Linked DNA regions of Homo sapiens. The protein of the gene in region 2 interacts with the protein of the main gene of each other region in a biochemical or structural test. Each region holds a gene or a part of one and is shown on either strand. Other genes may lie near its edges.

Region 1 (3,754 bases), on a different chromosome or scaffold from region 2:
GTCTTTCATTTTGTTTTTGTTGTTGTTGTTGAGAAGGGGTCTCACTCTGTAGCCCAAGCTGCAGTGCAGTGGTGCGATCTTGGCTTACTGCAAGCTTTGCCTCTGGGGCTCAGGTGATTCTCCTGCCTCAGCCTTCCAAGTAGCTGGGACTAGAGGTGTGCGCCACCATACTCGGTTAATTTTTTTGTATTTTTAGTAGAGACGGTTTCACCATGTTGCCCTGGGTGGTCTCGTATGCTTGAATTCAGGCGATCCACCTGCCTTGGCCTCCCAAAGTGCGGGGACTACAGACGTGAGCCACCGTGCCCGACCAGTAGTGACATGCAGTGATGAGGCCATATAATGTAATGCTCTATTAAAGGACTCCTTTTTTTAGTTAAGAAATCTAGCAATCTGATTTTTTATGTAGTTCACTGAGGAATCTCAAATTATTATTACCTTTGGTTCCATGATTATATTTTTGGGCATTACCTGATATATGAAAAAACTTTATATAAAAATAATGTTGTTTATGATATCAAAATTTTAGAAACAATGTCTAATAGAGAAGTGGACATAACCTTTTTTTTCTACATGTTTGTATTTTACATATTTTAGGTGAACATTACTCTTACAGTGGTAAGCAAGTAGTCAACTTGTATAAAAAAAGAGCAAATAATTTTTAGCAATCTTGAGTCACCAATAAACTAGAATTTTTTATGCAGTCTGTAAATAAATGATCATAATTTAATCATTTTTGATAGAACAGTTCAATAAGTAGTACATAACTGTTAGATCCCTAAAAATTGCTGTAGCCCAGCACTTGTTTTATATATTTTATATACATATTATATTTTATATTGCTTTATATTAGCAAGTTACGGAGAAGAGAAGTTGAGTTTTTCTAGCAGCAACCAGTATTTAGTTGTACTCAATTATTTTCATCCGTTTTTTTTTTTTTTGGTAGAACATGCCCTATTATATGGCAGTATAAATTAATCTGCTTTTATATTGTCTGGAAAAAAATCCTAGAGAGATTTGATTTGTATCTTATCACTGAAGATTCCATAGAATATATTGATTTAGGTTCATTTTTAAATTTTAGAAATGTAATACATAGATTGCCTTTTGTATATGAATAATTGATCTATCGTCTAACTTTTAATTCTGTGTTATTCAGTGTTTTGTTATTTAATAATAACTTTCCTTCTTCAAGGAGACAAAACAACTAGAGATTAAAAGTGGGGTATGGAAAAATAATACATTGGTATATTATAATTCATAATTAGGAGATAGCTTGAAAACCTAATGTTTCTGCATTATAGAGATTTGATATATGGAGGCTATGTTTTTTAATTGAGACAGGGCTTTTGATTCTTATCAAAACTGATTGTCTTACAATTTAGACAAATGTAATACGGAATTAATAATATCTTTAAATGTTTTCTTCAATTGTGCTTGGGTTTCTCATAAAATATTTTTTACAGGGGTTCAACAGAAATATTTGGTGGTTACCTGCAACTATGAAGCTAGGAAACTTGGAGTTAAGAAACTTATGAATGTCAGAGATGCAAAAGAAAAGTGTCCACAGTTGGTATTAGTTAATGGAGAAGACCTGACCCGCTACAGAGAAATGTCTTATAAGGTTACAGGTACAAATGATAAGCAATGTACTTTTAGCATTAATTTTTATGTAGGATGCCTGTTCATTACATGAATTTTTTAATAAATGTAAAATAACATAAGTCAAGATGCTTTTTCCTAATAACTTCTTATTTTGGGTCTTGTCAACTTTAAAAATTATGTGAAAGGATAACTGTATGCTATGAATAGTATTTTTAAGAAGATGTATAGTTGGAAGTAATTTTAACTCTTATTATTGATGTTTATATAACAGGGAAAAGTGGAAAACAAAGTTTAAAAGTGAGAAAATGGGAAACTGTACTGTAAAAGATGCCAGGTCTTTAAAATTTTAAGTTTAAATGAATTACGAAGAAATATGTTGTTTTCTAATGCACTAATGATAATTGAAAGAGGCTTCTGTAACATTTGATCAACATAATTAAAAACTGATTTCTTATGAAATATTAATAAAAATATTGGATATATTAATATTTTCTTAGGTTTTATATATATACTAAATATTACAATGTAGCTAAACTTTCCTATGCTAAGGTTTGGGTTTAAATCTTAGTGTTATAGTAAATTACAGGAAAAATGAAAATGAGTGTGCACTGGCACATTGCAAATATAGTAGGTTGATGCAAAAGTAATTGTGGCTTTCACAATTACTTTTAATTGCGAAAACCGCAATTACTTAATATATAGTGTAAAAATGTATAATGATCAGCTTTGCAATTATTTGTCTTTTTTACTTTTTTTGTTTTTCTTTTATGATAGCAATTTTCAGATGACTGGATTAAATGTCTATAATATACAAAGACCTCTTAGAAATTAACAGGAAAAATAAACCTAATAACAAAGGACAAAGGATATGAATAGGCAGTTGACAAGAAGAGCCTAACCCAGTGTCTAACAATTATAGGGAAAAAATGCTCAAATTCATTAGTGGCCAAGGAAATTTGAATTAGTAAGATATTTTATATCTGTCATACTTGCCCAAAATTAAAAGCAATGTGAGAAAAAAGTATCAAGAACACTTACTGAGTTTAAAGATGAATGTTCTTCAATCCAGTGATATCATTGCTGGGAGTTTATCAAATAGAAATAAAATCATAAGGCTGGGTATTGTGGCTCATACCTGTAATCCCAGCACTTTTGGAGCTGAGGTAGGAGGATTGCTTGAGCCTAGAAGCTCGAGGCTGTGAGCCGTGATTGTGTCATTGCATTGCAGCCTGAGTGCGCATGACAGAGTGAGACTCTTGTCTCTAAAAAAGAAAGAGAACCACAAGTACATAAAGACATATGTACAACAATGTTTATCATAGCATGGTTTATGATTGTCAAAAGTATGGAAGGAAAAATGCCCATCAAGAGAAATAGCCAAATAAACTAAAACATCTGTATAATGGATATTATATAGCCATTAAAAAGAATTCATTGGTGCAATACTATTTGACTGATGGAGATAGGGCTTGTTGAGTGAATAAAAGGCAAGGTACAAAGTCATGTATCATGTTTTTCCAAATGTGTAAAATTATGGCCTAAATGCCTCCTCTCATATTCATCATATAGATGAAGAAGAGTAAATCATTGTTTTGATTTGCAGTTTTCCATGAGTAAGGTTGAGTATTTTTTCATATATTTTTGGTCATTTATGTATTTTTTTCTGTTAACGTATTCACTTGCACCTGTTTTTAATTTGGGTTGTTCATCTTTTTCTAAGTACTAAGTACCTAGTACTTTTTGTGTTAGGTATTTTTTGAAAAAAGTTACTTTATCAATTTTTCTCACAGTATTTTTCTGAGTTGAAGTAGGCGCGTAGCCAGTTAGTCCTTTACTGTATTTATCTCTGATCTGTTTATAACCTTATTATTTATTTCATATTTTGATGCTACTGCATATATACCTTTCTTCAAGGTATTTTTTTTTTCTGTAATTACAGACTCCTCTTTTGGGCCCTATATAATTATATGTTTAATAAATGTATCTTGCTTATGAAGTTGATACCAAGAAAGAGGTTAACTTCAGGAATGGAGGCTGGGCATGGTGGCTTATGCCTGTAATCCCAACACTTTGGGAGGCTGTGGTGGGGTATCATTTGAGGTCAGTCTGGGCAATATAACATAGCAAGACCCTGTCTCTACAAAAGTTA
Region 2 (3,754 bases):
AATAGTTACAAATTCTGTGAAGATATCTAATTCAGCATAAGGTCTTTAGAGGTATACAACTAAATGGCACAGAGTTATTTTTAAGTCTGCCATACAGCTCATTAATCAATTCTGGCTCTCTAGCTCTGCTAGTCTACTTACTGGCCTACAATAAATGGCCTGCAATAAAAGATCTCCCTGCCTGTTTCATTTTTCCATCCAAACATTGTACAAACTAAGGACAAGATGCTTGAGACCCCTTTGATGACAATATTATTAAAAAGCTAGGCTCCTGCCATTACTAAAGTCACAGTGTCATCATGAAAGTTTCTTAGTACGTTTATGAAGTCTGTAAAGATCTTGAAGTTTAAAATGGAAAGCAAAATAAGGGTCCAAAGAATTAATATCTGAACTTTTAACGTTAAGTTTTTGGGAATGTGAAAATCAGATTATCATCTGCAGCTCGTAAGACTTCAATTCTACTAATGAATGGCTTCTTAATTTAATGATTCTAAAGTGATATAGTATACTTTCATAAAGTGCTAAGCAGTCCTAATTACATGTTAAAAAAAGATCTTATTATCTAAATTTATCATACCAAGTAATTTTTTGTCAATGGCAAAGATGCAATTTTTACTGTATTAATGTTGTCTTTACTAATACAGTCTGATTAAGATGATTACTTATCCATATATTTTTATCTTCTTTATAAAAAAATTTAAAAATTTGAAAGCCATCAGAGCTACTTACCATGTTTATGACAATTAAAAATATGGTTAACAGTGAGAAATATCTTACTAAGTTTCAAAAATATTATAATTTGGCTCCTAATATTTTTTCTTATTTTCAACCTCAATCTAAGTGTAAACATTTAATTACTGACAAATGTTGGATTTTGACAGTAATTAAAATCTAAAATGTACTTGGTCATAATCACCAATCAAGTTGACTTTCATATACTGATATTTAGTAGTAGCAATGAACTTCTTTCTTATTTTCATAAATTCTGATAAATTATTGTAGTATATTTTTATAATACAATTATCGTATATATTATACAAATCTAAATTGGCAAAATATTCAGTATAGTATATGAAATGTTAATGAAATTAAGAACATCTTTTCCTTATATCATATCCCTACTTATTCTGAATTTTCAAAACTGAATTTAAAAGAAATGTACCTTCTGCTGAAATTTTATAACGCAATTAAGAATTTATATATAATTTTATATATAATACAAATATATATGTAATTTTTTAAGGATGGATTTATCTCCATTTCTAATTTGAAAAACTAAATACATTTGGTATCTGAGAACATATCATTTGAGCATAATGTGTTTTAATCTTAGTATTTTAAAATTTCATTGGAAAATTTTCTTAAGTTTCTCAGTTGCAAATGTGAAGATATACATGCAGAATCCCAATATGTAGAATTGTGAATTTGAAACTAAAGTGCTAATAAGTATTTTAATATCTTGATTTACTGAGTTGTACACATTGTCATGTATAATGTTGTCAGAGAGTTTACCTGCTCTCTTTATAAAAATAATTTGTCTACATATATTTTATAATTTATAATATATCATGGGGTATTATAATAATATTTTTAAATGTTAACAGATTTACCCATTTCCCTTTTGTTGTGGAAGCATAACTGATGGTGGGTATAAAAATTTAAGTTATAAAGTTTATAGTAGTGAGAAATGCTAAATTAGTACAAAAATAACTTTGAAAAAAAGCTCAGCTTTATGATAATAAAGAAATAATGGATGGAAAAATATTTGTTGAGAGCTTATAATTTGTGAGGCATGCTAATCTCCGGGAATATAAAATATGAGATAAGCCTTTTAAGAGCATTATGCTTTTGTTGACGTGATCAACAACCAGAAGCTATCAGTACAGAACCAGAATCATAATGCAGAAGGGAAGTGTCTATTAAGTGACTACTTTCAAAGCAAAGAAGGAAGAGAGGGTCATGAGAAGCAAGAATTATTTCCTTAATTTAGAGATCGATAACAGATCTGTAAAGGGGATGAAGAGTAAATAGCATGGTGGTGCAAATTCAAATCATTTAAAAAAATCCTATCAAATCGAACAGACACATGTTGTATATGCATTGTTTCTAATACATTCATATTTTTTCCTGTTTTTGTTTCCAGAATGCTCAGGCCCACTGGGAATTGAAGGTGGAATTATATCAAACCAGCAAATCACAGCTTCCTCTACTCACCGAGCTCTTTTTGGACTCCAAAAATGGTATCCCTACTATGCACGTCTTAATAAGAAGGGGCTTATAAATGCGTGGACAGCTGCAGAAAATGACAGATGGCCGTGGATTCAGGTAACAGATGGGATGGGACAAGGTTAATGTTATAAGTCATTTTTAAATGATTCTGGTCATTTTAAAAAGCAGACAAAAGGGAACTCAGTGTGACTCTTCCTTATGGTCAGAGGAAAGGGTAATTTAGTGAAGAGTTCAAATTAGCTCCCAATTCTGAGAAGTAAAAAACATGCACATTCCATTAAGAAGTTAGTTAAAGAGATCAAAAACGTTAAAAATATTCAGGTATAAATATCACTGTTTTAAGGTGCATATCAAAGCAGGAGACTTTCTGTATACTGTGTGTTCATTACCACTGTGATAACGTTTAGCAGCAACTTATGATACTTTAAGAACATAAAAATTATATCAATGTTTTCTATCTCTAAGAAGTGGGTCCACAAATGCAAGTATAAAATATACCATGCATCATAATAACAATACCTCAAATGCACCTTCTTTCAAGCTGAGGGTGTTTCATTTCATAGTGTTATTCACTCTCATCAACCAGCTATTTTTTAAAACAGGAGAAAACAACAATATACTGAAATATTAAGTGATTTCCCAGAGGGGGTAGCAAGGCCCAGAGCTTATATTTCTGTACATTTCAATGCTTTTTGAGCATTTAGATGAACTATGTACTAGGAGTACAGAAAGATGATCAAAACTGATGTCTGTGAAAGAGTAAACCTCTGTTGGGGAAAGCACATTAATAACCATCTAACAAGTCATTGATGTGTACTAAAGGGAGGAAGAATTCAGTATTCTGTGGTCAGAGGAAGAATTCATTAATTATCTTGAGAAACTCACCTGGGGCAGATAGCTTTTGAGCTAGGCCTGAGAAGGATGGCTTTCAGTAGAGACTGAACATCCAGGGAACAGCCTGATTAAAGATGCTACATGACAATCTGGGGAATATTGTAGAAAATCATGACTAGAGTAAAGGTTGCTGGAGGGATGTGTTCAAATTCATTGTACGAGTTTGCTGTGCTTCGGGAGTCATACTAAAAGGTATTAGCCTTATTTCAGTAGAGTAGGGAGATATTGCAGAGTTTTGATTAGTTTAGGTGATTGATCTGTTCTATCTGTTTACTACGTATTCTAAGTCAAAGAAACATGGAAATCCCTGATGTGACATAATTAGGTGTACTATACAAGAACTAGTTTACAGGCATTTGGTATAAACGAAAATTGATTTATGGCTAAGAGGCAAGACTTCCATACTTGAAAAACTGGGCCAAAATCTCCTTCAGATACTTTCTTTGTTCAGATTTCTTAGGCATTCTTATATGTCTCATAAACATTTCTTTTATCTATAGAGCTCTAATAAGGTTGCCTGAAGTTCTTGTTTTGTATTATGAATTTATATTTACATGAAGTTGTTAAAATTGCTTCTTAAGTTACACTTGACTTTTTCAATCTATAGCAACATGTGCAAAATGAACTCCAG

The links.
Region 1: the proteins of EDIL3 (region 2) and POLI form a complex in vitro, tested with the Homo sapiens proteins (one study listed by BioGRID).

The regions. Positions count from the first base shown.
Region 1 is NC_000018.10:54,272,460-54,276,213, forward strand, and holds part of POLI (DNA polymerase iota isoform a (long)), read left to right. Parts: intron 1-1,466; coding exon 1,467-1,631; intron 1,632-3,754. UniProt on the Homo sapiens protein: Error-prone DNA polymerase specifically involved in DNA repair. Plays an important role in translesion synthesis, where the normal high-fidelity DNA polymerases cannot proceed and DNA synthesis stalls. Favors Hoogsteen base-pairing in the active site.
Region 2 is NC_000005.10:84,105,220-84,108,973, reverse strand, and holds part of EDIL3 (EGF-like repeat and discoidin I-like domain-containing protein 3 isoform 1 precursor), read left to right. Parts: intron 1-2,143; coding exon 2,144-2,325; intron 2,326-3,754. UniProt on the Homo sapiens protein: Promotes adhesion of endothelial cells through interaction with the alpha-v/beta-3 integrin receptor. Inhibits formation of vascular-like structures. May be involved in regulation of vascular morphogenesis of remodeling in embryonic development.